Linked DNA regions of Homo sapiens: regions 2, 3 and 4 are each linked to region 1. Evidence: fine-mapped expression QTL. A gene starts in region 1. Each other region holds a variant in brackets. All regions are shown on one strand. Distances are between the middles of the regions.

Region 1 (8,110 bases):
ATAGATTGAAAATATCTGCCACATATCTAACAGTCAATGGCTTAAATCCCTACACAAAGAACTCCTAAAAATCAATAAAGACAAAACTCCATACGGAATGGCAAATTATAAAGTTTTTCCTTGCTTCATTTTTCAAGTCTTAAAATGCTCCTCACGGGTTCTTTCACAGCATTTTTCCTGGGCCTGGCCTCCCACGTAGTTGTTGGAAAACCATCACTCTCTAAACCACAGCCACATACCCATAAGGAGGTCTCCAGGGCTACAAAAAATTAATCTCATGTGCTTTTCATTTAAAAGAACGGTAGCATAATCTAAAAGACTATCACATATCTGATAAATGACTTGTATCTAGAATATATAAAGAACTCTTGCAACTCAATTACAAAAAAGAACCTAATTTAAAAATGGGCAGAGGATCTGAGTACACATTTCTCCAAAGAAGATAAATAAATGGGCAATAAGCACTTGAAAAGATGCTCAACATCATTAGCCATCAGGGAAATACGATTTGAAACCATAATATTTTCAAAAAGTTAGGAGATTTTTAATGGTCGCAACACAAAGAAAAGATGAACGTTTCAGGTGGTGGACATACTAATTACCTGATTTGATCACTACACATTGTATACATTTATCAAAATATCACTCTGTAGTCCCTAAATATGTACAATTATTACATGTCAACGAAAAAGAATGAAAACACAATGACACACACTTCACACCCACTGGAATGGCTAGAATCAGAAAGACAGATAATGACAAGTGTTGGCAAGGAGTGAGAAATCAAAACCCTAATACACTACTGGTGCGAATGTTAAAAAGATGCACACTGATGCTTTGGAAAACAGTCTGACCATTTCTTAAAATGTTAAACAGAGCTACCATATGACCCAGCCATTTCACTCCTAGGCACATACGCAAGAGAAATGAAAACATGATGTCCACACAAAAACTTGTAGGTGAATGTTCACAGCAGCATTACACATAATGGCCAAAAGGTGGAAACAATCCAAACGTCCACTAACTAATGGAAAATAAATCGTGGTAATACCCATAAAAGATTAACCAGCAATAAAAAAAAGTACTGACACATGCTATTAAATACAACACAGATGAACATGAATGTTAAGTAAAAGAAGCCAGTTGAAAAAGACCACATGCTGTATGATTTCACTCACATGAATAATCCAGAATAGTCAAATATACAGTCAGTCAATTCATAGTTGCTTAGGGCTTAGAATGGGGAGTGGGGATGGGGAAGTCAGGTGAGCCTGCTGAATAAGTACAGGGTTTCCTTTTGGAGTGATGAAAATGTTCAATTGTTCCAATATGGCTCTCACAAACTGAATGCAGCATATTAAACATGAACAAAAGAATACAAGAATAACTTATTGGAGTCTGTCTGAAATAGAAAATTAAACCAACTAATGAAGGTGAAGAAGATTACAGCATATTTTATGATGATGGTTGTACAACTTTGTGAATGTACTAATGTACTAATTACTTTTAGGTTTTCTTTCTTTTTTTTTTTTTTTGAGATGGAGTCTAGCTCTCTCGCCCAGGCTGGAGTGCAGTGGCGCAATCTCGGCTCACTGCAAGCTCCACCTCCCGGGTTCACACCATCCTCCTGCCTCAGCCTCCCAAGTAGCTGGGACTACAGGCTCCCGCCACCACGCCCGGCTAATTTTTTGTATTTTTAGTGGAGACGGGGTTTCACCGTGTTAGCCAGGACGGTCTTGATCTCCTGACCTCGTGATCCACCCGCCTCGGCCTCCCAAAGTGCTGGGATTACAGGCGTGAGGCACCGCTACGTTTTAAATGGTGAACTCTACGGTAGGTGAACTATGTGTCAGGAAGCTGTTTTATTTTTTTAAAGGACTGAAGACTTTTGTTTTGTGTTTTGTTTTGTTTTCATTTTATCCCGTTTTTAAAACAGTGCCTAGCAATATTATGAATTCAATCGATTTTGGCTAAATGCTAGAACAAAAATTAAAACTTGAGTAAACCATATAAAACTTTGCCATATCTAAAGTTATTAAATTACCGTAGACTGGCATGGTGGGAGCATAATATGAGTGTACCTGCAGGTGTGTTTTCCATGAAAGTAGCAAAGACTGAAAAACTCAGCAGAATCAAGACCCTGTAGGCCCTTGAAGTTAGGCTAAGAAATGTGTATTATCCTGAAAGCAACGGGAAGGCCAGGAAGATTCTGAGGACAGAAATAACACAATCTGATATGCGTTTTAAACGTGCAGGTGTAAGCGGAGAGTTGCTACTTCTATCCAAACGTGAGCCACCTCAGAAATAAAGCAATAGCCCTCCGGGGAGAATGGGGAGGAATCAGGGGAAGACCGGAGAAACAGGTTATCAAATTATCAGAATCTCCATAGATTTTTTTAAATTACACAGCATCCACCCCCAAACACACATACAGACTGATAGGCACTGATATATACATAAATACATCCAATGTCCCCTACACAGAAAATCACTTTTGCAGTCAGCCCCTGTTGGGAGGGTTTTTCTGTTATTCAAGTGTGGTGGGGACAAAAAGTATTATAACCACTAAACCAGGTAATTCTTTCCTACAATAATTTGGGCAGCGTACTCCTCAGGGTGTTGAAATTTAGCACTACCAACAAAAGTGCCCAGTCCCAACTCTTCGAGAGGACCCTAACTCTTTACAGTGTGCTGTTGGGGATGGTCAGCAAAAACTGCAGGACAAGGTCAAGGTTAGCTCGACACAGCCTCCTAACTCCGAGCGGACGGAGCCACTGAAGGTTACCAGGTGCCAAAGAAGCTGCGCAGGGAGGCCGCGACCCGGCGCCGGCGCGAACCTCCGCGATGTGACCCGTGAGGGAACTCTCCAAGAAGCAGCGCACCCCGCGCGCAAAGGCGGCCCCCCGAATTGCAGGAACAAACGCTTCTTGCTGGGGGGAAGACGGAGACTCTTATACCGCGGGAGACTAACCTGTGAGCAACAGAAGCACCACGCTACAAAGAGCATGACGAGTTCTTCCAGGCTTGGGAAAGCACGGGTAAATGCCCGCGGTCCTGCGCGCCAGCGGGGAGCAGTAGAGACTTCCGGCGTCGGCTGCTCGCAGGGCTAGAGCGTCGAACCGGGACAACCGGAGGCTTCAGCTCACCTCGGATTGTAAATGCTAACACGGGTCCTCCGGCCGGCTGATCCAGAACTTAGGTCGCCGGGACGTGTGGCTTCTGCTTCTCAGACGCTCGGACTCGCGCCGGGAAGGGTTTCGCCTCCCCTGGTCCCCGCTTTTTTTTTTTTTTTCTGCGTCCGGTTATTGCAAATGCATTCAGTCCAGTAGCACTAGCCCAGGAAATATAAGCCACCGGCTCACGTTGCTCCTCACAGGTATGCGGCGCTTCCGCTGGCCTCCAAGGACACGAAGCCCCGGGCCGTCTGGCCCCCCACTCTAGCACTGAAATTCCTGCCGCCCCGTTCAGCTGACAAATTTGGCAGCACTAAATTTTATTTTATTCGACAAATTAAGTACCCAGTTAACACCAGGGAGTAACGGGGTAAGAAAATTTCAGAAGGCTGGTGGATAATAATAGCATTTACCTCATAAATTTGTTATGAGGATGTGAAGCACTTAGAGTAGTGTCTGGCAGTTTGTAGGCGCTCAGTAACTGTTAGCTGTTATTATTTTTATATTGATTATTCCATAGTCACCACTATTATCACCTTAATGTCAAGCTTGAAATCCAGTATCTTTCCTCTGCGAAGCCATCACTCCAAGACTAATTAACTTTAGACTGGGGCATTCTTCTTTAAACTCTTGCTCACACATCCCTATCAGAAAAAATATATATATATTTACATGTGTCATGTATGGCATTAATATATTATGCATGCTATAAAACTCACAAGACATCAAACTTTTGATGAGGTAAAAACAATTTTTAAACTTTTTTAAAAACTTCTAACAGAAGTTCTTTTCTTCCTCCACAACAATTAGGTTGCCAAACATACATTCTATCACTCTGGAATCCACTAGCTAAATGAGCACATTATCAAAGCAACCTACCGCTGAATTCTGACTTCCCAGAATGTTTCTTTTCCAAAGAATTAATAGAAACTAATCAGATTGTGAAGTGCTCGGCCATAAGGACTATTTAAATGGTTCTTAGAGAAAAAGAAGAAATAAAATAGGCATCCACTGAGTAATATTCATTGATGCAACATTGATTATTGACTTATTACATTTTCAAAGAGATTGAGGTTATAATACCTTACACCAAGCTTAATATTTCAAAGAATAAATCAACTAATAAAAAGCTTATGAGGTTTGGTATATGTGCATTTCATACAACGTTCATGAAAATGAACCCGAGATCAATTAGCTCCCGTTCTGTACCAGAAAGAGAAATATGTTTACTTTGTAAGTAATAAAACATTAAATAGGCTTTTCTGACCATTTGCTTGAAAACTCAGAACTTAACATTTCTATCACTGGACTTAAATCTGCTAAAGTTTTCGTCTAAATTTTACATTAAAAACAAAACTCTATAGTGAATAATGTTACCTATCCAATATTCATTTTCCTCTAACTCCTTTGTACCAAAATCCTTATTTTATTCAGATAGCTGCCCTGTTCCCAGAATCAAAATGATACTGATTAAACCAGTCATCACACAGAATTTTTTTGTCGTCTAAATTTTACATTAAAAACAAAACTCTATAGTGAATAATGTTACCTATCCAATATTCATTTTCCTCTAACTCCTTTGTACCAAAATCCTTATTTTATTCAGATAGCTGCCCTGTTCCCAGAATCAAAATGATACTGATTAAACCAGTCTTCACACAGAATTTTTTTGGAAATAGTTGCTAATCAAGGAACGAGTATATGACCCAGGTTGGCGCAATCTGACTGAAGGAAAGGACCTCTATTTCATGCTCAGGAGAAAGTTTCTGATATACTGTCCTCTTGACGTCGAAACATCTATCCCACACTGTCATTAGTAGCCATCTTGCCCATCACAAGGAATAAAACTGATGGACCAATGCTGAGGACAACTGAACAAGTTATAAAACAATGTCCTTGGTGACATCATTCCAAACCTGGAGCTCACCCTGTATCTGAATGCCTTGTAGGAATGTCTAATAAGTTTCCTTATTGTTTTTGTTTTCTGTTTTTCTGAGACTGAGTCTCACTCTGTCGCCCAGGCAGGAATGCAGTGGCATGATCTCAGCTCACTGCAACCTCTGCCTCCCGGGTTCAAGCAATTCTCCTGCTTCAGCCTCCCAAGTAGCTGTAACTACAGGCATGCACTGCCACGCCTGGCTAATTTTTGTATTTTTAGTAGAGAAGGGGTTTCACCATGTTGGCCAGGCTTCTCTTGAACTCCTGACCTCAGTGATCCACCCACCTTGGCCTCCCAGAGTGCTGGGATCCTTACTGTTTTCTGATAGAGATGCCATAAAGATTAAATGGGTTAAAATAGTGCTGGTCATATTGTAAGTATTTTAAGTGCTTAATAAATTTTAGTTATTATTAACTCACCTTAAGTCAGGGATTCTGTTTCTTATAGCCAAAATTACCCATCAAAATACACATTCTACCTCTCTTTTTCTATATATTTAAAGAAAGGGTCTGTTTTGATACTTTTAAACTAAGGAGCCAGGGAAGGGGTAGGAGGTGAAGAGAGGAGGGGCTGACTATAATGCTGTATGAGGGCTACTGTTAAGTGGTTAAATGGCTGCTTTGAGATTCACTCAAGAGCAGCAGGATCCTATAACTATCAAATCTGAATGAGGTTACTACACATCGTAGTTGTATGTATACATGAAAGTATCATTTCCTGCATATTAATATTGTGATCCACTGCCTTACTAAGTTGCTTTATTGTTTGGAGTTCATTCTGGTAGAATTTCTAAGATTGCAATCTTATCATTGAAATAGTTTTACCTACTTCTTTCCAAGTTTTATACCTCTACTTTCTCATATCTAATTGTTTTGGCTAGTATCTCCAGTAAAATATTTAATAATAATAATGACAGTAGACTTTTATGTCTTATTCCTATCTTTAATGAGATATCTTTAGAATTTTCCCATTAAGCATGATGCTGGTTTTAAGGACTGAAGTAGACATCTTTTATCATGTTAAGGAACTATCCACCTATTGAGAGAAAGAAGAAAATTTTGGCATAAGAGCTTTGAGAAAACAAAGCATTGAGCGTGCCATAATGTCCTGTCATAAAAATAAGTAAAAGTTAGACAGTATTTACCTCAAAGACACTGAGAAAATTAACATTAGCTAGGTTGGTATGAATGTCCTTTCTTGCTTATCTTACTACCAGCATGAAATTCAGTCCTGCCTAGTTTGTTTACAAGAAATTCACCTGTGATATCCTGATTTTTAACCCTGAAAAAGTTATTTATCTCTTACAATATGTCCTGTTTAATGTAAAGTTAATGCTTGCTCTACATGTTTTTTGTTTTTTGCTTTTGTGTTTGCTTTTACATGTACTCCAAGCACATGCTCTACATGTTTGTTATAGGAAATAATGTGCACCTCCTATAATTTTGTTATAGGAAATTGTAGCTGTTCAAATATGCTGATTGCAAAAAATAAAGGACATTTTATAATAATTGGGTTAGATCATCAAGAAGATATAACAGTCTTAAATTTGTATGAATCTGGCCAGGCGCAGTGGCTCACGCCTGTAATCCCAGCACTGTGGGAGGCTAAGGCAGGCGGATCACGAGGTCAGGAGTTCGAGACCAGTGTGACCAACATAGTGAAACCCCATCTCTACTAAAAATACAAAAATTGGCCAGGCGTCGTGGTGCGCATCTGTAATCCCATCTACTCAGGAGGCTGAGGCAGTAGAATCGCTTGAACCTGGGAGGCAGAGGTTGCAGTGAGCCGAGATCGTGCCACTGCACTCCAGCCTGGGCAACAGAGCGAGACTCCGTCTCAAAATAAAAAAAATTGTTTGGAACTAATAGCAGAGCTTCAATAAATGTGAAGCAAAGACTGACAGGACAATTCAAAAAATTGGAAATTGTAGGCTGGGTGCGGTGGTTCACACCTGTAGTCCCAGCACTTTGAGAGGCCAAGGTGGACGGATCGCGAGGTCAGGAGTTCAAGACCAGCCTGACCAACAGGGTGAAACCCTGTCTCTTCTAAAAATACAAAAATCGGCCTGGCATGATGGCGTGCACCTGTAATCCCAGCTACTCAGGAGGCTGAGGCAGGAGAATTGCTTGAACCCAGGAGGTAGAGGTTGCAGTGAGCCGAGATTGCAGCACTGCACTCCAGCCTGGGTGACAGAGTGAGACTCCATCTAAAAAAAAGAAGAAAAAAGAAAAGAAAAATTGAAAATTGTAGTGGAGATTTTAACATTCATCTCTCAGCAATTAATAGAAAAACTAGACCAAAAAATCAGTAAGTGCATAAAAAACTGGAGCAACACTATTAACCAACTTGACCTGTTTAATATTTATAGAACACTCCATAAATAGCTAAATGCACCTTTTAAGTGTGTAGAATATTTTTATGCCAGTTCATAAACATTGATAAACTTAAATACATTGAAATTGTATAAAGTTTTTTGTCTTACCATAATTATAAATTAGTAACAGATATCTGGAAAACACAAATATTTTGAAATTAAGTAACACACTTCTTTTGAAATTAAGTATACATTTTGACTCATGGGTCAAAGAAGTAATGGTAAAGGAAACAGGCGTATTTTGAAGTGAATAAAAATAAAAATATATATCAAAAGGCATTGAATGCAGTTAAAGTAGTGCTTTAGAGAGGAAAATTATAGCATTGCATTCTTAATATAAGGAATAAAAATATAAGAAAAGAAAAAGTATAAGTTAAATTATTTTAGCTTCCACTTTAAGAAATTGGGGGGAAAATTAAAAATAATAGAAAATGAAATAATAAAGATAATTTTGGAAATCAATTAAGTAAAAGAGCTAGTTCTTTTTTCAGTTTATTTATTTTTGAGATGAAGTCTTGCTATGTTTCCTAGGCTGGTCACAAACTTCTGGGCTCAAGCAATCCTCCCACCTCAGTCTTTGGAGTAGCTGGGGATTACAGGCACTCAACACTGCACCCAGCTAAA
Region 2 (8,110 bases), 22 kb before region 1:
GAGTTCTTGCACTGGTTCTTTCTTACCTGTGTGGGCTGATATCCTGTAATCTTTGAAGTTGTTACTTTTTGCATGGGACTTCTTGCTTTTTATATTCTTTGATGCTCCTGAAAGTTTGACTAATATTTGTTTGGTTTAGTCAACTGGCTTCATTGTGGATGCTTTCAGGAGGCCAAGGCTCAACAGAGCACTCCTGGGCTACATGCTCTAATCCTTGTGGTGCTGGGACCAGGCCTGTGGCTTTATTTTCTGGCTCCTTGAGGTTAAGTACCTACTGCTCTGAAGGAGCTGAGATGTTCCCGGTCCACTGGCAACAACACTCCGATGGCAGCTGCCAGCAAAAGAACTCTGGTGGGGCAGCAATAGGCTCCCACGCACATGCATGCCTGCAGAGTGGCACGGGGAAGCTGTGGGCAAATGCACACTGGCAGGAGAAGGCTGCAGGTGGGCACGTGCCAGCAGGGGAAGGCTACCGGCAGGTGCACATTGGCAGGGGTCTGGGTCCATTTGCAAAAGCACTCCAATGGACAGATACGGTCTTATGGCAAAAAGCTATAGTGATGGCTGCTGGCAAGCTGAGGCTGTGCTGCAAGCAGGTACAGCCAGGCAGGGAGGGACCCTAACAGAGGCCAGCAACGGGCAGTTGGGGGAGGTCCTCAGATCAGACTGGTCCCATTCCACAAGCAAGCCAGCCCTCTATTGTCCAGGTCTGGCAGCCAACAAAGGCTAGAGCTGCCTAGAGGAGTATGGTGTTATGGATATCCACAGCCATGCTCCACTGCAACTGTTCCCACAACAAACCCTCTGGGCTCCATGCAGGCTAGAGTTCCATCTCTGTCAACTCTCCAGGAAGTTCTTCCTGCCAGCTCAGATGTTCATGAGAATCATGGGGTCTCCCACAGGTAGGCTCCCAGAGGTCCGCGGCAAGAGTGGGCCACTCCACATCAATTTCACTCACCCCATCCCTAGGAGCGACTCAGGGCCAGCGACAAACCGACAAACCGTGGTGCTTGGCAACCCTGTGCAGGGTTTCCAGCTTCCTCCCCTTTCAGCCTGGTATCTGCATCCTCCCTCTGTCCACTCTCAATGCCTTCTTTCCAAAGATCTGTTCAGAGTGTGCTGGCCTACTTGATGGCCTGGTCTCAGTGGGAGAGGCTCTTCCTAGCTGCCTCTAGATAGCCATCTTGCTATTTGTCCAAAATTATTGTTAAAGAATAAAGCATGAAAGCAATTTTCATAACTTGAATAAAAGTAAAGTTTTCATCTCCTACACTACTGGAAAAAAAAAATCTCTTTTACACAAATACTTAGAGCATTTTGATTCAAAAGCTAAAAAAGTATATATTAATATTAGAATCCAAGCCAGGCGCAGTGGCTCACGCCTGTAATCCCAGTACTTTGGGAGGCTGAGGCAGGCAGATCACTTGAGCTCAATTCAACACTAGCCTGAGGAACATGGCAAAACCCCATCTCTACAAAAAAATAAATAAATAAATACAAAAATTAACCAGACATGGTGGCACACACCTGTGGTCCCAGCTACTCAGGAGGCTGAGGTGGGAGAATCACTTGAGCCAGGAGGCGGAGGCTGCAGTGAGCCGAGATCATGGCACTGTACTCCAGCCTGGGTAACAAAGCAAGAACACATCTTAAAAAATAAAAAATAAAAAAATAAAAAAATAAAAAAACCCAGCCAGGTGCAGTGGCTCACACCTATAATCCCAGAACTTTAGGAGGGCAAGGTCAGCAGGTCACTTGAGCCCAGGAGTTTAAAATCAGCCTGGACAACATAGTGAAAGACTGTCTCCACAAAAAAATAGAAAAATTAGCTGGGCATGGTGGTGCATGCCTGAGGTCCCAGCTACTTGAGAGGCTGAGATGGGAGGATTGCTTGAGTCTGGGAGGCTGAGGCTGCAGTGAGCTGTGATAGGACCACTGCACTCCAGCCTGGGCAACAGAGAAAGACCTTGTCTCAAAAAAAAGAAAAAGAAAAAGCCAGACATGGTGGCTCACACCTGTAATCCCAGCACTTTGGGAGGCTGAGGTGGGCAGATCACTTGAGATCAGGAGTTCAAGACCAGCCTGGCCAACATGGAGATGCCTATCTTTTCTAAAAATACAAAAATTAGCCGGGCATGGTGGCAGGTGCCTGTAATCCCAGCTAGCTACTCAGGAGGCTGAGGCAGGAGAATTTCTTGAACCCAGGAGGCTGAGGTTGCAGGAGGCTGAAGTTGCAGTGAGCCAAGATCACGCCACTGCACTCCAGCCTGAGTGAATTTTCAAGGGCAAAGCCTTGCTGGCTAAAACTGTCTCTAGTAATCTTTAAAGAGTTCAGTCAAATTAATAAATACAACATCAAGACTGAAACAAATTAATGGGCAAAAGGCATATGCAAATACTTACAAATTAGATGGAGGAGGAGGAAGATCTCATATTGAATATTTACTGGGTATTAAAAACTGAGTGGTTCTTTTTTTTAAAAGTCTATCACACAAAGAAAAGTGCACAAAACATAAATGTTCAGCCCCATGAATTAAAACAAACCAAGCACCCATGTAACCACCAGAGTCCTAGAAATTGAGGACTGCCAGTAGCCCATTGGTTCCTTCCCACTTCTTTCCAATCATTAACCCCTCCCTCCTCTCCAAAGGTAACTATCATCTTGACTTCTAACATTCTAGTTCTGTACTGTCTGATTTTAAAATCTATTTAAGTGGAATCATATACAGTAGTATGGATTCTTTTGTGTGTGGGTTTTGTTCAACATCATGTTTTTAAGGTTCATCCATATTGTGTAAATTGAGTTTGTTCATTTTCATTACAGTACAGTAGTCCACGTTTGAAATGTATAATAATTTACTTACTATACTGTTGATGGAAATCTCCCCACACAACTATTTTGAGCTAGTACAAATAGTGGTGCTATAAACATTCTTATACACACTACTTCAACGCACACATGCCCACCATTTCTGTGGAAGTAAAATTACAAAGTCACAGAGCATGCATACATTCTGCTTCTACACTGCCAGGTTACCAAAGTGGTTATATCCAACAGTGTAAAAAAATTTCCTTGGGCATGGTGGCTCATGCCTATAATCCTAACACTTCCAGCCTGACCAACATGGTGAAACCCCGTCTCTACTAAAAATACAAAAATTAGCCAGGCATGGTGGCATGCGCCTGTAATCCCAGCTACTCAGGAGCCTGAGGCAGGAGAATTGCTTGAACCCCGGAGGCGGAGGTTGCGGTGAGCCAAGATCACACCACTGCACTTCAGCCTGGGCAACAGAGCAACACTCCGTCTCAAAAAAAAAGTCCTAACACTTTGGAACGCTGAGGCGGAGGGATCACTTGAATTCAAGACAAATCTGGGCAACATAGTGAGAACTCATCTCTACAAAAAATAAATAAAGTTAGCTGGGTGTGGTGGCACATGTCTGTAGGCCCAACTGCTCAGGAGGCTAAAGTGA[G/A]AGGATTGCTTGAGCCTGGGAGGTCAAGACTGCAGTGAGCCGAGATCGTACCACTGCACTCCAGTCTGGGTAACAAAGCAAGACCTTTTCTAAAAAAAAAAAAAAATTCCTTGCTCCATTGCTCCATATTCCCACAATCCCTCTGCATTATTAATCCTTCTATTTAGTATTCTGGCAGGTGTGTAACAGTTATATGCCATTATGATTTTAATCTGCATTTCTCTAATGATTTGTGCTCTTTGGCACCTTTTCTTATTTTTACTGGCCACTTGGATATTCTTTTTGGTGAAGTGCCTGTTCAAGTCTCTTACCCATTATTCTACTGGCTTGTCTTTTTCTCTCTTACCCATTATTCTATTGGCTTGTCTTTTTCTCTCTTATCTTTTATTACCATTATTCTACTGGCCTTTTTCTCACTGATTTGTAGTCCTTCCCATATCCTATACATAATCCCTTTGTCACAGAGTTGCAACCATCTTTTCCTACTCTTTGGCTTGCCTTTCACTCTCTTAAACATGATTTTTGATAAGCAGAAATTCTTGGTTTTAATAAATTCCAATATATCATTTTTTATGGTTAATGCTTTTTTGTGTCCATTTAAGAAAACTCTTCATACTGTAAGGTCACATAGATATTTTCCTATATTATCTCCTATAATCTTTTTTTTTTTTTTGAGACAGAGTCTCATTCTCTCTCCCAGTCTGGAGTGCAGTGGCACGATCTCAGCTCAGTGCAAGCTCCGCCTCCCAGGTTCACACCATTCTCCTGCCTCAGCCTACCGAGTAGCTGGGACTACAGGCGCCTGCCACCACACCTGGCTAATTTTTTGTATTTTTTTTAATAGAGACGGGGTTTCACCATGTTAGCCAGGATGGTCTCAATCTCCTGACCTCGTTATCCACCTGCCTCGGCCTCCCAAAGTGCTGGGATTACAGGTGTGAGCCACCATGCCCGGCCTATCTCCTATAATCTTTACTGTTTTGCCTTTCACAGGTAGATCTACAATCCACTGAGAATTCATTTGGGGTGTAATATGAGATACAGGTCTTGATTCACTTTGTTTTATTGTGTGTGTGTGTGTGTGTGTGTGTGTGTGTGTGTGTGTATACGCATGAACATGCATATATATAAAATGCTTCAGCACTATTTACTGAAATATATTGTCACCGTTCTGCACGTTATCTTTATAACAAATTAAGTATCTACATATTCACATGTCTATTTCTGTATTACTTATTCTGTCCCACCAATCTACTATACTAACCAAGACTGTTGTGTATCCCTGCACCAATATAACACTGTCTTTGTTAATCCAGTTTTATTTTTTTTAATTTCATATCTGATAAAACAAATTGTCCCACTTTATTCTTGAAGAGTATCTTGGCTCTTCTTGGCCTTCTGCACTGTCATATAAATTTATCTTTTAATGATGTGATAGCCCGTAACTAAATCTTATTAACACACTTAAAAAATATCATAAAGCCAGCCTAGAAGGGGTACCTAACTTGCCTGAGGGCCTAAGACTGCAAAACTTAGATTTGAACCTAGAAATGTCTCTGTGCAAAGTGCACACTTTTTCACTATTAACATCCTGCAAGGCTAAACTCACACATGAAAATGTTAAGCCTAAAAATAAAAATAAATGAAAGTAAAAATAACAATGAGCATTATTCCAACACCAACTCAAATTATTATGAGTTGCCAGATGCGGTGGCGCACACCTGTAATCCCAGCACTTTGGGAGGCTGAGGCAGGCGGATCACTAGAGGTCAGGAGTTTGAGACCAGCCTGGCCAACATGGTGAAACCCTGCCTCTACTAAAAATACAAAAATCAGCCAGGCATTGTGGCACATGCCTTAATCCCAGCTACTTGGGAGGCTGAGGCAGGAGAATCACTTGAACCTGGGAGGAGGAGGTTGCCATGAGCTGAGATCACACCACTGCATTCCAGCTTGGGTGAAAGAGCAAGACTCTGTCTCAAAAAAAAAAAAAAAAAAAAAAAAAAAATATATATATATATATATATTTTTAAGATATGTCCTAAACAGTTGATTTATTAATAGTTACTGCCTAAAGCCCAATGTTATAAAATATGGGTCATGTCTCATTCCCTTTCTAGAGCTACTAAGAAGATGAAATGGATAGCTCTTTGGTAGGTGAAGAATAGAAAAGATTTATGGATGATTCCCAGATGTCTGGCTTGAGTAAAGGATGTTTACAGAAGGAAAATAATATTTCTTTAACAACTAGGCAGTGCAGCAGGTGCTTGACATAAACTATCTCATTTTATTCTCCCAACTCCAATAGGTATTACTGGTGAACCAAATTACAAACAAACAATAGGATTCAGAAAGGTTAGGTAAACTTGTCCAAAGTGAAAAATAAATTACTGGATATCAGATCTTAACTGAAACCTCAGGTGCTAAGCCCTTTCCAAAACACCACAGTGCTGGTATCTGTGATATTTGTTTCACAACTGAGCTGAAAAACTAGATTTTCCACCAGGGAATATACAAGTGACACTAAAACAATAAGCAGCTGCCAGGGTTTCATTGTCATTAAATGTAGCAAGTCACATGGAAGCCTTTTGAGATAACTGCTCCAACCAGCAATCTTTAAGAACAATACTGTATTTGTTGATGGTTTTTTTTTTTCATTTTTGTAAAAAGATGTTGGATCCTTAATACATGTTAGAGCACATGTAATATCCCATCCCACATTTTTTACAATTTCAGTGCAGTGACAGCAGAAATCTTGTGGTTTGGTTCTTAACATATTCTGAGAGAAATTAAAATGAGGGTATTAAAGGCTCATGAAAAAATAAGGGTCACTAGCATACACCTGGGTGTAACTAATCAGAGACCAACAATTTCCATATATACATATATAAGAGAGCATGGTTAACTCAATGTAGGGAAATAATGTACCCACTTTATTATGTGCTCATCATACCACATCAGTAATACTAGATAACACAATAAGAACAACAGATCAACTACAGTAATATTCTTACCAAAGAGTAAGACTTACAATGCAGATTCCTGACCATTATTTAGAAAATCTCTGGCCAGAGCGAGACTCTGTCAAAAGAAAGAAAAAGAGAGAGAGAGAAAGAGAATCTCTGATCCATTGAGTCAAAAGGTGGGAATCTGCTTTTTAAAAAGTTTGTATTTTCACATGTATCAAATAGTCATGTGTCACCTAACAATCAGGATACATTCTAAGAAATGTATAGTTAGGCAATTTCATCATTGTGTGAACATCATAGCGTGTACTTACACAAACCTAGATGGTACAGCCTACAACACACCTAAGCTGTATGGTATGGCCTACTGCTCCTAGGCTATAAACAGGTACAGCATGTCACTGTACTGAATACTGTAGGCAATTATAACACAATGATAAGCATTTGTGTATCTAAACACAGAAAAGGTGCAGTACAAATATAGTACTATAATCTTATGGAACCAGTGTCATCTATGCAGTTCACTGCTGACTGAAATGTCACTAAGTGGCACATGACTGAACATATAATATATAAAATATATGTGTGAATACGAAGAGAAACTAATAACAATAAACTCCCAAGTGTCCACTACCCCTATTAAAACACGGACTTTTACCAAGACATTAAGACACCCTGATCCCATCCCCTTCCCTCCACCGAGGTAGCTATTATCCTGATTTAATCATTCCCTTGCTTTTCTTTTCTTCTTTTGTTTTTCTTCTATCCCTCCAGGGAAAAAGAAACTTTTTTTTTTGAGACAGAGTCTCACTCTGTCGCCCAGGCTGGAGTACAATGGCACAATCTCGGCTCACTGCAACCTCCACCTCCCGGGTTCAAGTGATTCTCCTGCCTCAGCCTCCAGAGTACCTGGGACTACAGGCGCCCACCACCATGCCCAGCTAATTTTTGTATTTTTGGTATAGACGGGGTTTTACCATGTTGGCCAGGCTGGTCTCCAACTCCTGACCTCAGGTAACCCACCTGCCTCGGCCCCACAAAGTGCTGGGATTACAGGTGTGAGCCACTACACTCATATTCCTCCAGAATTTTGAAGGCGGCATTGCTTCACTGCTTTCACACTTCCAGGGTGCTACATAGAAATCCAAAGTCATTCTGATTCCTGATCCTGTATATGTGATCTGGGTTTTTTTCACTCCAGAATCATCTCTTTACCACACGGTGTCCTGAAATTTCCTAATGATGGGCCCCAGTGTGGGTATATTTATTAGACTGAACACATGGCAGGCACATTCAATCTGCAAACTTCAATCTTCTACTGTTGGTCGTTTTCTTGAATTATTTTCACCTTTTCATTTCCCCTATTTTATCTGCAACTCAACTGTATAAACATTGAACCTCAGGAACAGTCAGCTAAGTGTCCTCTGTCTTTTTGCCTACTTCTTAGGAGATTTCCTGACCATTATCTTACAACCTTCCAAAGATTTTCATTTCCACTATCATGTTTTAAACTTTTTTCATTTTCTAGCTGGACTTTTTTTTTTATTGACACATTGTCATTACATATATTTGAGGGGTACAATTTGAGGTTTAAATACATATATATGGTTTTTTTGTCTTGTTTTCTTTTGCTATTTGAGACAGAGTCTCGTTCTGTCACCCAAGCTGGAG
Region 3 (8,110 bases), 75 kb after region 1:
TGTTCTTACTCTGTTGCCCAGGTCTTACTCTGTTGCCCAGGCTGGAGTGCAGTGGTGCAATCATAGCTCACTGTAGCCTCAACCTCCCAGGCTCAAGCAGTCCTCCCACCTCAGCCTTCCAAGTAGCTGGAAACACAGATGTGCGCCACAATACCCAGCTAATTTTAAAATTTGTGTAAACAGTGTCTCCCTATGTTGCCCAGCCTCATCTCAAACTCCTGGGCTCAAGTGATCCACCTGTCTTGGCCTCCAAAGTGCTGGGATTACAGGCATGAGCCACCGTGCCCAGCTGACCACAGTATCTGATCTGTATTTGTAGCTGTTTACTTGATGTTGGTCACTCTTTGAGCAGCTCCGTTAGCAATAGGAAATGGGCATGCAGGAAGCTCCTGCTCTTGTGGCCACTTTTGGATGGGCTCCTTCTCTGGCCGTATCGTTGGGCACCTGGGCCACCATTCCTGAGGGCTTTCATTACAGAAAGGAGACCCTGACATGGCCTGGCATTTTTGCACGGTAAAGCCACTGATACATAGTAGAACCTCATTTCAAAATCTGTCTTCATCCTTGAAAATGGTAATATAATGAGAGTACAAACCATTAATTTGTACAAGAAACTGTGTTAAGTTAAGTAAGTTAAGTACAAGTAACTGTGATGTGCATTAATCCATATGACAATCCTATAAAGTGGTATTCACTACCCCCATTATACAGATAAACTGAAGTTCAGAGGCATGAGTGGCTTCACAGAGGTAACGTAGCGGTCATGAGACAGAGCTGGATTGGAGCTCAGCTCTCTAAGTGGCTGGAACTGTTGTGGGTGGCTGCTTAGTATTCTGTCCAAAGAACTAGGCTGGGCATAGTGGCTCACGCCTGTAATTCCAGCACTTGGGGAAGCTGAGGCTGGTGGATCACCTGAGGTCAGGAGTTTGAGACCAGTCTGGCCAACATGGTGAAACACCGTCTCTACTAAAAAAAAAAAATACAAAAATTAGTCGGGCATGGTGGCACGCACCTGTAATTTCAGCTACTTGAAAGGCTGAGGCAAGAAAATCGCTTTAACCCAGGAGGCAGAGGTTGTAGTGAGCCGAGATCGCACCACTGCACAGCCTAGGTGACAACGAGACTCTGTCTCAAAAACAAACAAACAAACAAACAAAAAAGAACTAGAGCAGACAGTAACCAGCCCTGGGGAAGTCTTTTTGTTTTGTAAGTTTGATACTTAGGCCCCAGTGATTTCAAACCATATTGTCTATGAAAATTCTAATTTTTGTTTGGTTTTATATATAACTTATTACTTTTTAAGAATATACTCATTGTTATTAGTCATTGTTTTAAGTGAATATCAAGGTCATAAGAAATGTTTTGTTTATAATGTAATGTAACAGATATGAAGTCTTTTAAACTTAGGTTATGTTTAAGATTTTGGCTGGAGGCAGACGGGAGCAGTATCTTGACCAAATGGATTTCTCACACCAATACTCTTTTTTATGTTTATATATATATATTTTTTTGATATAGGGTATCACTCTGTCACCCAGGCTGGAATGCAGTGGTACAATTATGGCTCACTGTAACCTCGAACTCCTCAGGCCCAGATGATCCTCCCACCTTAGCTTCCTGAGTAGCTGGGGCTGCAGGTGTGCACCACGACACCCGCCTAATTTTGTGTGTTTTTTTGTAGAGACAGAGTCTTGCTATGTTGCCTAGGCTGGTCTTGAACTCCTGGGCGCAAGCAGTCTGCCAGCCTTGGCCTCCCGAAGTGCTGGTATTATAGGCATGAGCTACTGTACGTGGCCTTTTTAGGCTTACTGCAACCTCTGCCTCCCGGGCTAAAGTGATTCTCCTGCCTCAGCCTCCCAAGTAGCTGGGGTTACAGGCACCCGTCACTATGCCCGGGTAATTTTTGTATTTTTTTTTACTAGAGACGGGGTTTTGCCATGTTGGCCAGGCTAGTCTCGAACTCAAGTGATCCACCCACCTTGGCCTCCCAAAGTGCTGGGACTACAGGCGTGAGCCACCACGCCTGGCCCCAATACTCTTTTGAGTGTACTTTTTTGTTCACAAGATTAGGAAGACTAAGAAAACATTTAACATTGTATCAATTTTCTTGATATTGAAATAGCTCAAAGGTATTACCATTTTCTCCATAGCTATTATAATACCTTCATACCTTATTGCCACTTACACATCAGGTAGTTATAAGAATACAGGCTTGCAGGGCTAAAATACTTTGATTCTTCTACTTTTACCAGACTACTTTAAATCACTAAAGAGGATATATATATATGTATATGTAGGTATGTGTTGTGTGTGTGTGTGTGTGTATGTATATCTACATATGTGTACATAGATGTATATATTAGAAGCCTGAAACTTTTTTATTATCCTGTTTGGCTGGATTGACTGCTGTTTCCAGTAGAATGTTTTACTAAAACTCAATTTAATAAACAGGAAAAGACAGAGATGCTTTTATGATAGAGTTGAAGTTCAGCCACCTGAGTTTTCATCAGTATCATTAATCACGTTGCCTGCCTACCACATAAGGCAAGGTCCCATTGTACTGATCACTCGGCCACATCTTTTCACACCCCCGCCACCCCCACCCCCCTGTCCTGCTTTCCACTTGGCATTCCTGCTTCCCAGTTCCCACAGCATTTGTGATTTCCCACAGCTGGCCCGTTGGAAGAAGAGCGGTTTGGCTTCCCTGCATTCAGCGGCATCTCTCGCCTGACCTGGCTGGTCTCCCTCTTTGGGGAGCTTTCTCTTGTGTCTGCCACTTTGGAAGAGCGAAAGGAAGATCAGTATATGAAAATGACAGTGTGTCTGGAGACAGAGAAGAAAAGGTAAGTCATGAGAAGCCATGAGGAGGAGGAAATTTAAGGACATCCTAGTACATTTGCAGGTATGATCCAAAGGGAGCCCCGAGGGGCTAGACCCTCACTCCCAGCTCCAGAAGGGCTGTCTGCTTCTGCAGATGGAGTGCTGAGATTGCACTTGTGTTGCCTCATCTCATCCTCTCAGCAGCCCTGTGAGGTAAAGAAGACAAACATAATCCCATCTGCCAGTCAGTAGACAGAGGCTTACAGAATGCCAGCAGGTTGCCTAAGTCATGCAAGTCATTCATAGCAGATTAGTAGTGGAAATTACATTACCTTGGCTGGGCGTGGTGGCTCAGGCCTATAATCCCAGCACTTGGGGAGGCCAAGGGTGGTGGATCACCTGAGGTCAGGAGTTTGAGACCAGCCTGGCTAACATGGTGAAACCCTGTCTCTACTAAAAATGCAAAAATTAGCCGGTGTGGCGGTGCATGCCTGCAGTCCCAGCTCCTTGGCAGGCTGAGGCAGGAGAATTGCTTGAACCTGGGAGGCAGAGGTTGCAGTGAGCTGAGATCAGGCCACTGCATTTCAGCCTGGGCAACAGAGCGAGACTCCTTCTT[GA/G]AAAAAAAGAAAAGAAAAAGAAATTATGTTAACTCTGTGACCTGATTTTTTTCCTGTGTTTTCTTATGAAAGTTTTCGGGCATATTGTGAAGTTGAAAGAATTTTTAAGTAAACACCCATCCACCTACTCCCTAGACCCTGCCATTAACACTGTACATGTTCCCCGCAGGGCCACACATTCACCCCTCAGTGCAGCCAGAGTGTGAGGGTCTGTGTTTCAGCTTTAGCATCCCATCACCCTGTCACACTGTTCCCAAAACATTCTGACTTATTTCTCATACCAGGTCTTTTTTAACAAAAGCACATTCATAATTTTCCTCCCAAAGCACCTGGGCTCTGTAAATTATTTAGAACAGTAAGGGTTTTAGAGTGTTTCTGGATGCCTTTGCAGAGAGGTGGGTCTCCTGGTAGTAAAAGAAGCAGACACTGGGTATTTTAAAAAGAAAAAAGAATTTGAGTTCCTGAATGAAGCCTGATCTAGTCCATTTTGAGGAGTTTCTTCTTCGCTAGGAAAAGGCAGAGAGGCCTGGCAGATGAAAGCAAAGCACATGGAACTTGGCAGTGCTCCCTATGGAGTGACCAACAGTGGTGGCCCGGGCTCTGGTGTGGCCATGTGAGTGTTAGGATTGCAGCCGTGGTCAGACCTATACACAGACAGTTGTAGCACCCTGTAATTAGAGGTAAAGATACTGTAGGGTGCTGTAGGAGCACAGGGAAGGGGAACCTGGACTAGGTCAGCTCATGGTTCTGATGGGAGGCGGTGCCTTGTTTGGTCTTGAAGTTGAGTAGAAGTCAATGAGGAAGCAAGATGTTGGGGAGGCAGAGGCTGACTCTCTCTCTCTTTTTTTTTTTTTTTTATGAGACAAAGTCTTGCTCTGTCACCCAGGCTGGAGTGCGGTGGTGTGATCTCAGCTCACTGCAACCTCCATCTCCCGGGTTCAAGTGATTGTCCTGCCTCAGCCTCCCGAGTAGCTGGGATTATAGGCGCCTGCCACCACGCCCGGCTCATTTTTGTATTGTTAGTAGAGACAAGGTTTCACCATGTTGGTCAGGATGGTCTTGAACTCCTGACCTCAAGTGATCTGCTCACCTTGGCCTCTCAAAATGCTGAGATTACACGCATGAGCCACTGCACCCAGCCCTGGCTCTCATTTTTGCACAGGAGAGGCAAGCATCAGATGAGGGATTGGGACAGAGAGCAGTTAATATAATATAATAGTAACTTCTTAAAATCATAGTACTTTCCGTGTCCCAAATTGCATTTTTAAATTTTTTTATCTATTTATTTATTTATTTTGAGACCGGGTTATGAGACTGGCTGATTTTCGTATTTTTGGGTAAGATGGGTTTTTGCTATACTGTCTAGGCCGGTCTCAAATTCCTGGGCTCAAGCGATCCACCCACATCAGCCTCCACGCCTGGCCACAAACTGCATTTTTATCTCACAATGTCACAGCAAGATAGGTAAAGCTGTATACTTATTACCATTACTTATTTTTACTAGTGAGGAAATTGAGGTACAAGAAAGATCTTGACATTCTGCATTCCCTCAAATCCCAAGATTCCATATTATTTAAAAGGACATGAGAGGCCGGGCACAATGGCTCACGCCTGTAATCCCAGCACTTTGGGAGGCTAAGGCAGTTGGATCACCTGAAGTTGAGAGTTCAAGACCAGCTTGGCCAACATGGTGAAACCTTGTCTCTACTAAAAATACAAAAATTAGCCAGGCGTGGTGGCAGGTGCCTGTAATCCCAGGTACTGGGGAGCCTGAGGCAGGAGAATCGTTTGAACCTGGAGGCAGAGGTTGCAGTGAGCCGAGATTGCACCACTGCACTCCAGCCTGGGCAACAAGAGCAAACATCTCAAAAAAAAGACATGAGAAATTTTCTTAGGCAGACTACGTAGAATACCTCAAGTTTATTTTTATTCAGTGCCAAAATAAAAGTTAATCTTTGTTGCCATCTCCCAGAACATTTGCTAGACTGTACTATGAGCTTTTAAAACTAGTCATGGGAGGCCAGGTGCAGTGGCTCACGCCTGTAATCCCAGCAGTTTGGGAGGCCAAGGCAGGTGGGTCTCTTGAGGTCAGGAATTCAAGACTAGCCTGGCTGACATGGCAAAACCCCATTTCTACTAAAAATATTTTTTTAAAAAGTAGCCAGGCATGGTGGCAGGCGCCTGTAATCCCAGCTACTTGGGAGGCTGAGGCAGGAAAATTGCTTGAACCCAGAAGGCAGAGGTTGCAGTGGGTCGAGATTGCACCACTGCACTCCAGCCTGGGTGACAGAGCAAGGCTCCATCCCAGAAAAAAAAAAGTCACTGAATGAATTCCCCTGCCTGATGGCAAAATTAAATTAAAGACTGTTTGGCTGTGAGGTTGACACAGTCACCCACAGCCTCTGGGAGGCTGGTGGCTGCAAGGAGGATGGGTGCCTGACAAGGACATGTTACCAGGCGGTCTGGTGCCAGCAAGCACCCACTTGTGCTCTTGTGTAATCTCTAACATGATTCTTTTGTCTTTTGTCTTTGCAGTCCACTGTCATGGATTGAAGAAAAAGGACCTGGTCTAAAACGAAACAGATATTTAAGCTTCCATTTCAAGTCTGGGTCCTTGGAGAATGTGCCAAATGTAGGAGTGAATAAGAACATATTTCTGAAAGATCAAAATATATTTGTCCAGAAACTCTTGGGCCAGTTCTCTGAGAAGGAACTGGCTGCTGAAAAGAAACGCATCCTGCACTGCCTGGGGCTTGCAGAAGAAATCCAGAAATATTGCTGTTCAAGGAAGTAAGAGGAGGAGGTGATGTAGCACTTCCAAGATGGCACCAGCATTTGGTTCTTCTCAAGAGTTGACCATTATCTCTATTCTTAAAATTAAACATGTTGGGGAAACAAGAATCTTATTGTTATGAGCTATGTTGGGATATTTGGGGTTAGGGGCTATGCAGTGGGGACAAGGCGAGAATGAGCGTTGGTTGAGCTGAGCTAAATGCTTTGTATGTCTGATTTCACTTACTCCTCCTAACAGCCCTATGAGATGAGTACTAGCAGGCCTCTTTTTTTTTTTTTTTTTTTTTTGAGAGTCTCACTGTGTCACCCAGGATGGAGTGTAGTGGCACCATCTCGGTTCACTGCAGCTTCCACCTCCTGGGTTCAATCAGTTATCCTGCCTCAGTCTCCCAAGGAGCTGAGGATTACAGGCGCGTGCCTAATCCTGGCTAATTTTTGTAGTTTTAGTAGAGATGAGGTTTCGCCACGTTAGCCAGCCTGGTCTCGCTCGAACTCCCAACCTCAGGTAATCCACCTGCCTCGGCCTCCCAAAGTGCTGGGATTAGAGGCATGAGCCACCATGCCTGGCACCAGGTCTCTTTTCATTGTATACTAGAAAATGTTGTTTGAACAGAACCCTCCGAGATGATAGAGTCACCGCCCTTCTGCTCTCGTGTTCTCAGCTGCCCTATCTACCCTGCAGGTTGCTGCTGCTGCTGGAGCCCACGCAGGTCATGTGCCACTGTGGCATTTCCTAAACACTCCTGCCTCTGAAGGTGGCACCCCATGCCCCAGTCACAATTCTTTCAGAGTGTCACAGAAGGAAAGAATCCACATGTATTCCTCAGCAGTCTGTCCCTCTGTCCAATTTGAAGAAAAAAAAAGCCCTTAATCCCGCTGTACTAATGCTCCTAAGTGTTGAGGGGTCCTTCAGGAGGGCCTTGTGTCTCCAGGCAAGAGTGACCACAGAGGTGCCCTTTGCCCCTCAGCCCCTCTCCCTGTGGCAGCAGTGACCTGCCTGTCTGGTGAAGCTGGAAAAGGGACTAAACACATGACACCCAGCCACCTTCTCCCTCTGAACCGACATCCTTAGGATGCACCCAAGCTTGTCCACGTGGCAGGTGACTAAAGCAGACTCTTCCTCTGCAAGTAGGTGACCTGCAGCTGTGATGAAGAATTGAGTTACCCTAAGACAGGGCAGTTACCCTAAGACAGAGCCTAAGACAGTTACCCTAAGACAGAGCCTAAGAGTTACCCTAAGAGTTTAAGAGCCTAAGACAGAGTTACCCTAAGGTGGAGCCTAAGAGTTATCCTAAGACAGAGTTACCCTGCAGGGAGCCAAAGGCCCGCGGGACGTGACCAACTCAGCATTCCGCTGGAGGCTATATGATCAAACAGCGAACTGTTTATCATGAATGCAGGATGTGGGCAAACTCACACTGCCTTGCCACCAAAATGTTTGCTGAGGGACATCATGCCCTGGCGCCGGGCTCCTGGAAGTTATCTATTGAGAAATCTAGCGCCTATTGTTCACAAGCCCGCTGTGAACCAAACGGCTGACTGACAATTACCCGACAACCATCCTCCCACTTTCTTGCTGTCTCTTTCACCTAATAAATACAGAGGGCTGTGTAAAGCTCACGGCCCTTGTCCACTAGAGGCAAGATGCCCCTTGACCTCTTCTTCCAAATATACTCTTTTGTGTCTTGTCTTTTATTCCCACATTCGCCCCCCTTTGTTCAGTCCCCCGAGGTCCATGCAGGTTACAAGTGGCACCCCAAACAGCAACAGGATCGGGTGCTCTGCATAGTGGCATCCGAACACAGGACTTCGAGGACATGAATGAAGAAAGTCCGCTGGAGCAGAGGAACTGAAATTGACAAGGCGAATGGGGACCCCGA
Region 4 (8,110 bases), 140 kb before region 1:
TTCCTGTCATTTTAATGAAATGATATGTTTTTATTGTTTTTTGTTTTTTTTTTTTTTTTTTGAGATGGAGTCTCGCTCTGTCGCCCAGGCTAGAGTGCAGTGGCGCGATCTCAGCTCACCGCAAGACCCGCCTCCTGGGTTCACGCCATTCTCCTGCCTCAGCCTCCCGAGTAGCTGGGACTATAGGCGCCTGCCACCATGCCTGGCTAATTTTTTGTATTTTTAGTAGAGACAGGGGAAAGGATCTGTTAATGAGTTCTACATTGGAACAAACATGACCAAGCTTCAGTGTCATATAGTTAAGTTCCCACTGGGGCCTTAAAGTAAATTAGGGATGTCCTATCTCATTCTCCTCAGAGCAGTCAGGGGTAATAGGGACAAGAGAGGATTTTTATCAGAGAATAAGAGAATATTCAAACTGAAAGGGGACTCTGGGTGGGTATTTTGGGGACTGTGTGTCCTTACCTAGATTGATGGCTGTAGGTAATAGCTTCAGTTTTTGTATCTGACAAGAACTTAAGCGTGTGTCATAAGTTATCATTTTTTAACAAATAAAGACCTTTATTAAGTAATATCCATGCAGAAATTGCTTTGTTTTAACACAGATGTTATTTAAGATTTCTTGACAGCTAGTCATTAGTTTGAAGAATTTTATTTACAAACAGTTTTGGGTAATCTGATACTTTGGATAGATAAAAGAAAATTGGCCATATTTGTGGTTCAACAATAAAGTTACTTGGAAAGTATGGCTTCTGCTCTTAGGCAGGTACTTTAAGTCAGTCAGCTGTTTAATTTTGAAAAGTTCATGCTTCAAATGTTAAAATCTTAATTTAAAATACATGAATGTAAGAATTTGAATTTTAATCTTTTCATAAAACCATAGATGACACAATTTTATAAAATATGATTATTGAACCAAATGCATTAGAAAGCTAAGTAGCTATAGTCACCTCTTCAGGTAAGTAAGAAGTTAACTAGATTTCTTGAGAGAATTTACACATTATGTAGACTTAATAGCTCACCTCCAGAACTCCTGTTCTGATATTTTTTTTAAATTATTATCATTGGTTATATCATAGATCTGAAATTAATGCCAAAAACAATAAAAATAGCCACTGATTATTGATCATTTGCTGAATGCTACACACTTTAAAGATGTAATTTTGTATAGTCTTCACTGCCCTGTATGGTAAAGTGCCATTGATCTCATTTTACAGATGAGGAATCCCAGGTTCCAAAGGATTAATAAATTGCCCAGTATTACACACTTGTTAGCCAGAATTTAAAACCAAGTTTGACTTGTAAGGCCCTGCCTTTTCTTATCACGCATGCTAATGTCTTATTTGAATGGACTCACTGATTTTTACGCCTAGGGTCTTTTCCTTGGTCCTTTCAGCGATAAGGAAGACAAAATCCATTCTAGGTTTTTCCTGAATGGAACTTCTTTACGTTTAAGACATGGCTCACACCTGTAATCCCAGCACTTTAGGAGGCCAAGGTGGGCGGATCACTTGAGGTCAGAAGCTTGAGAGCAGCCTGGCCAACATGGTGAAACCTCATCTCTACTAAAATTACAAAATTAGCTGGGCACACACCTGTAGTCCCAGCTACTTGGGAGGCTGAGGCGGGAGAATTCCTTGAACTTGAGAGGTGGAGGTTGTGGTGAGCAGAGATAGTGCCACTGTACTCCAGCCTAGGTGACAGAGTGGGACTGTGTCTCAAAAAAAGAAAAAAGACATCACTCCAGTGTAATTAGGCAAATACTGTACTTATGTATCAAGTACATAAAAGCACTACCTTAGGCTCTGGAAGCTATTCCCAAATGTAACAGATCAATCACTGTCCCCTTTATAGGCAAGATGATATGCCACTGGAAGGTCTTATGGGGGAAATAACATTTCAGTTGGGCTGTAAAGAATGGATGGAATTTCAGTAGTAGTTGCCATTGTCAATAAAACAGCAAGTCAGAGCAGTAGAAAAATTCAGTGAAGAGAGAATGGCAAGTAGTCCAGTATATTAAATGTCATGAGGTTAAGTTGCCATAAAACTTTTATTTAACAAAATAATAAGCAGTATATATACTAGGTGTGCTGATTATATTTGCACACCTGCCATGTGCAGGGCACTATGGAGATAAAAAGATGAAGAATAAGTGAGGTCCCTGAAACTCACAGTCCAGCTGGGAGACATAGTACAACAAGTTGTAATATATAAGATTGACATAAATATAATAAAGGTATAAACAAAGCACTTTAACCTAGAATAAAACAGGACCTTGGACATTATTTTACTTCCCCTTTGTACTGCTCAAATTAGCATGTGCATTTTCTGATGTTTACCTGAATGTTATATATTCTATTATCTCTTCACCTTTGCTTATAATCCAACACTTGAATTTGTATTTGGAATCCCTTCAATAAATGGGATTCTCTTTACCAAAAAAGGCAGCTCAACCTTCTGTCCAACTATAACTCCTACCACATTACACAGTACTATAACTGGTACCACATTTACACAGTACCTATATTAAAAATCTAAAAGTCATCCATGACTTTCACCTTTCCTTTCTCCTCTCATCTCTGCGTACAACTCACACCTGCCAGGGAGTGCTAATAAATCTTGACTTTGAGTGTCTTTTAAACATATTCTCTCTTCCCAGTCCCTACGCTGGTACTTGAGTGCAGACCTACTGCTTTGAATTATTTTATTGGCCTCTCTGTTTCTAGTTATCACTGGCAATCCACTCTTCACAACACTATTAGAATTACCTGTTTTGTTTTATTTTATTTTATAATTTTATTTTAATTTTATTTAATTTTAATTTTAATTTTATTTTATTTTATTTTATTTTATTTTATTTGAGACAGGGTCTCATTCTGTTGCCCAGGCTAGAGTACAGTGGCATGATCTCGGCAGCCTAGATGTCCCAGGCTCAACTGATCCTCCCATCCCAGCATCTCAAGTGCCAGGACCACAGGTGCACACAACCACGCCTGTCTAATTTTTGTATTTTTTGTAGTGACAAGATTTCGCCACGTTGCCCAGGCTGGTCTCGAACTCCTGGGCTCAAGCAATCCGCCTACCTCAGCCTCCGAAAGTGCTGGTATTACAGGCATGAGCCACCGTGCCCAACCAGAATTATCTTTTCTAAACAATTATTTTCAGTATTCTAATAGGTTCCAGTTTTAAGCCTGATGAAGCCCAAACTCCTTAGCAAACATACCTACCTAAAGATACTCACCCTGTCTCCCTAAGCAGTGTTTTTAGGCACTGATAATGCAAAGGACTTAGGGAGCTCGGACTGGTGGGTCTCAATCAAATGTCACCTCCTCTTGTTATAATTGTTTATGTATCTTACCTTTCCCACCTCTCTGGAATATGTTTTCAGTGAGTAGTTCTGAAATGTATTCATTTCTGATATTCATCCCAAAATATTTAATGAAAACCTAAGTTCTCAGTTTTGTACCTATTAGCAAAATATAGATGTTTTTGAAATGAAAAAATATACCTGAAAATTATGGCAACTGTTTATTCCAGGAAGAAGTTTGGCTTTTGAGTCAACAAAAAAAGTAGATGTGCAACAAACATCTTATGCCCTTTGGACCTCATCAGCCCCAAGAGAGCTGTATATAACCATGGCCCATAATGTCAGGGAAACATCATTTTTAAAATGTTTTGTAGAGGACTCAATAACCTAAAGTTAAAGGTTGAGGTACAGTCACAATTTTTACCATAAAGTCATGGTAAAATATGCATGTTGGAGCCCTTTTGAGGTATGGAATTTAGGGAACTCTGTCAATGTAATTCTGAGCATATACACTGGGACTTTGCAGCTTGAATGCTGAATCTCCTGTTTTCTTTATACAATGTGGCTGTGTAGAACAGCTCCAAGAAATCCGTTATTATCTTCTCTGACTCCTCCTTGAGTGGTTTGAAGGGTCCCCCTCCCATTGCACCAGTCATTTAGAGATGAAGGCATGCATGCTTCCTCAAATCATTGCGACCTGCTGTCATAATGTCAGTTTCAGTGGTATGTGGTATTAGAATGATGGAAGAGTTTTATTCAGCATAGGATAGAGCAGGGGTCAGCAAACTACAGCCAGCCACCTATTTTTGAAAGCCTTGCAAGCTGTTTTTACATTTTTTATGTTTTACATTTTTTAATAGTTAAAAAAATTAGAATAAGAGTAATATTTAATAACATGAAAAGCTTATGAAATTAAATTTCAGTGTAAAAGGTTCATTGGAAGCCAAACATACCCATTCATTTACCTTTCTTGTATGGCTGCTTTTGTTCTGCAACAGTGGACTTGAGTCATTGCTGCAGAGACCCTCTGGTCCACAAAGCCAAAAATATTTACCATCTTGCTTGCCCTTCACAGAAAAACTTGCTGACCCTAGTATAGTACAGGATATGTTGGAAAGAAAAGAATAAATCTAGAACTGTGAGGAATGTTTCCAGAAAAACAAAGGTGGTGTCAGTGTAGTCATTGATATGAAAGGAGAGCCGTGGGAACTGCATTCTAGCACCTAAAGGAATGGGTGAGGAGCATGAGCAACAGATGAATAAGTATGGGGAAGAGGCCCCAGAATTTAGCAATGGCTGTTCTGTAACAGGGCTCCCACAGTTCACAGGTTAGCAATGTGTGTGAGTCCGTGTTTAATTTGCCCTGTTAAATTCTAACTTCTAGGTTTTGATCTTTCATTCTAGACTACTGACATAATTTTGAGTTCCAATTCTGTTTGCTGAATTAGCTGTCTTTCCATTTGGTCTTTAAAAATAGACTTTCAGGCTATGTAATAAGTAGTTTTTTACTTACTGCACAGTACTTTATTGCTTTGAATGTCAGGTGTGGCAACAGTAAACATTTGTGTGTGTGATATGTGTTTGAGGGCCGTTCTACTGAGTCATTTCTAATTTACCAGGAACATGTTTGCTGCCAATTATATGTTGAG[A/G]CTTCATTTCAGACGAATTTTTTACAAATTAAACTTTCTCTTCTCTTGAAACTTCAGACATGTAGGTATGAAAATATCAAATTAATAACAATTGTTTTCTGTCTTAAAAGAATTCAGAGATCATTGGGAACCTTTTAAAACTTGATGGAGATGTTAGCCTAATGATTTTGTGGGATAAAATGAAAGGTATTAATTACTCTTTGAGGAATTCATTTATAGTTACTCTCTCCCATATCTGTAGAAGTCTTTCATATTTCTGTGAACAAAAGAACTTTTATCTGAATAAGGGTGCTGCTAGGTAGGTTGTTACCAAATTGAACAGCCATAGGGCTATGCTTAAGGATTTGTCATTCCACATTTATATTACTAATGATAAAAACATGGAGGACATGAAAATTATATTTGCAGTTAACAATAGCTGGGAAGGAAGAATTACTCAAAATTATGTCAGTAGTCTAGAATGCTAGATCAAAGCCTAGAAGTTAGAATTTAACAGGGCAGGCCAGGCATGGTGGCTCATGCCTACAATCCCAGCATTTTGGGAGGCCGAGGTGGGTGGATCACTTGAGGCCAGGAGTTCGAGACCAGCCTGGCAAACATGACGAAACCCCATCTGTACTAAAAAAAAAAAAAAAAAAAAATCAAAAAATTAGCTGGGCATGATGGTATGTGCTTGTAATTCCAGCTATTCAGGAGGCTGAGGCATGAGAATTGCTTGAACCCGAGAAGCGGAGGTTGCAGTGAGCCGAGATCGTGCCACTGCACTCCAGCCTGGGTGACAGAACGAGACTGTGTCTCAAAAACAACAACAAAAAAGAATTTAACAGGGCAATTAAAGCCTTGCACTTAATTTTTTAGAAAGCTTTTTAAAAAAATAGATTCAGGGGTACAAGTGCATTTGTGTCACATGGATATATTGGGTCATGGTGAAGTCTGGGCTTTTAGTGTGCTCATCACCTAAATAGCGTACATTGTACCCAATAGGTAGTATTTAATTCCTCACCCCCTTCCCACTCTCTTACTGTTTGGTCTGTTTTTCCACTCTATGCCTGTGTATCCATTTAGTTCCCACTTAAAAGTGAAAACAGGCAGTTTTTTACTTCCTGCTTGAGTCATCTCACTTAGGATAATGACATCCAGTTCCATCCATGTTACTGCACAAGACATCATTTTTATGGCTGTGTAGTAGTCCATGATACATATACACACCATATTTTTAGTCCAGTCATCCACTGATGGACACTTAGGTTGGTATCTTTGCTATTATGAATAGGGCTGTGATTAACATATGAGTGCAGGTGTCTTTTTCATACAATAATTTCTTTTCCTTTGGGCAGATACCCTGTAATGGGATAGCCAAGTCAAATGGTAGTTCTTTGAGAAATCTCTAAACTACTTTCCATAGTGGCTGAACTAATTTACATTTCCACCAGCAGTGTATAAGCGTTCCCTTTTCTTTGTATGTTCGCCAACATTTGTTGTTTTTTAACTTTTTACTAATAGCCATTCCAACTGCTGTAAAGCAGTACCTCATTGTGATTTTAATTTGCATTTCTCTGATGATTAGTGATGTTGAACATTTTTTAATGTGTTTGTTTGCTGCTCTTTTGAAAAAATGTCTGTTCATATAAAAAAAAAAAACAATGAGGTTGTTTTTTTTTCTCGTTTTTTGAGTTCCTTGTAGATTCTGGATATCATCCCTTTGTTGGAGGCATAGTTTGCAAATATTTTTTCCCATTCTGTAGGTTGTCTGTTTATGCTGTTGATTATTCCAAATTTTTTAGCAATCATTTTTAAAATATAGTATGAGGATACTGACTTGATAAAAATTCAAGGTGGAAAAAAATCTAGGTAGTTTATCAGCCCAATTTGAAATATGAAAACATGTCAAGTTTTTTAACAATCAATCTTAGGTTGTATTGTTCCAGGAGCAACAAAAATAATAATGATGTAATGCTTTGATCGATTATACCTGGATTAGTTGCTTCAGATTTGGTTGGCACATTTTCTGCTGAGCCATAATAGGGAGTCAACCTTATGGGGAGGTGGGCATGGTGGCATGTGCCTGTAATCCCAGCTATACAGGAGGCTGAGGTGGGAGGATCACTTGAGCCCGGAAGTCCAAGGCTGCATTGAGCTATGATGGTGCCACTGCACTCCAGCCTGGGCAACAGAGTGAGACCCTGTCTCTTAAAGGAAAAAAAAAAAACCCATGGGGATGGGGATTGATTGCAAATTGGGAAAGGGAAGAGGGAGTGGCAGCTAACAGATGGTGTTTGCTGTGTTCAGTATCTGATAGACTGCCATGTGGAAAAGAGAGTGAGGTCTGGTCTGTACTGCTCAGCAGAGGACCCTGACTGTAACCCTTCAACTGAAGTCAGGTTTAGGCTTGTAATGAAGACCTTATTAAGATAATATGTACCCAGTAGTGGAAAAGATTACCTCACAGTTTGAAATAAGACATTGGCATTTGGTGTTAGGTAAAATACTGTATGATTTCTAAGTTGTCTTTCAACCTAAGGATTCAGTGGATGTTTACGGGTGATGACTATCACAGCTTAATGATGTTTGTGTGATTAGTAATATTTATTGAGCACTTACTGTGTGGCAAGTACCATGCTAAGCAATTGAAATATATTATTCTTTAATTCTTAGAACCCTGTGAAGTAGATGCCATTTGTGTCCCTATTATACAGATTAGAAAAATGAGACTTAGGGCATGGAGGCTCATGCCTTTAATCCTAGCAGGATCACTTGAGGCCAGGAGTTCAATACTAGCCTGAGCAACATAGAGAGACCCAGTCTCTTAAAAAAAAAAAAAAAGAAAGAAAGAAAAGAAAAGAAAAATGAAACTAAAAGAGGTTAAATAAACCACCTAAGGTTACTGTCAAGTGCCACTTATAGGGTTCAAGCCCACATAGGTTTAATTCCAGAGCTCATACTTTTAATCAGTATGCTATACTGAGTCCCTGGTTTACCCACTTATTAGTGTAATGACAAATAGTAATGTATCAATATAACACTTTGTTGTATCTGTCTTTATGAGAAAATACATTTCTAGCTGACGCTCTAGTTAAAATGATAAATGAGTGAGATCCTTACCTTTAGAAAGTGATAGTGCTCTTTAGAGTCAATTAGTGCAGTGAAATTCATC

Which allele goes with the higher level. Alleles are on the strand shown, and positions count from the first base shown. SD is a standard deviation of normalised expression in the study named. Not every link is listed here.
As copies of A replace G in region 4, the expression in vagina of the gene that starts at base 3,066 in region 1 goes down (small effect, 0.31 SD a copy in GTEx).

What was found. PIP is the estimated chance that this variant, and not a neighbour inherited with it, causes the effect.
Region 2: its variant is the best candidate, but not a certain one, in a credible set for the expression of COA1 in whole blood (INTERVAL, PIP 0.88).
Region 3: its variant is the best candidate, but not a certain one, in a credible set for the expression of COA1 in whole blood (INTERVAL, PIP 0.65).
Region 4: its variant is the best candidate, but not a certain one, in a credible set for the expression of COA1 in vagina (GTEx, PIP 0.73).

What each region holds. Positions count from the first base shown.
Region 1 is chr7:43,726,458-43,734,567 of GRCh38, forward strand. It overlaps COA1 (cytochrome c oxidase assembly factor 1), which reads right to left and starts at 3,066. Exons shown (of 6, transcript NM_018224.4): 1 at 2,972-3,066. RefSeq lists enhancers at 2,352-3,081, 3,082-3,810, 3,177-3,376.
Region 2 is chr7:43,704,896-43,713,005 of GRCh38, forward strand. The region is part of intron 1 of COA1 (cytochrome c oxidase assembly factor 1); the gene reads right to left. Among named protein-coding and RNA genes, the nearest start is that of COA1, 21 kb to the right of the region's middle. The variant G/A (reference allele first, on the strand shown) is at 3,474.
Region 3 is chr7:43,801,005-43,809,114 of GRCh38, forward strand. BLVRA (biliverdin reductase A) reads left to right here. Exons shown (of 8, transcript NM_000712.4): 7 at 2,672-2,843; 8 at 5,973-6,338. The coding sequence ends at 6,231. Among named protein-coding and RNA genes, the nearest start is that of BLVRA, 46 kb to the left of the region's middle. The variant GA/G (reference allele first, on the strand shown) is at 3,437.
Region 4 is chr7:43,587,112-43,595,221 of GRCh38, forward strand. The region is part of intron 1 of STK17A (serine/threonine kinase 17a); the gene reads left to right. Among named protein-coding and RNA genes, the nearest start is that of STK17A, 8.1 kb to the left of the region's middle. The variant A/G (reference allele first, on the strand shown) is at 4,957.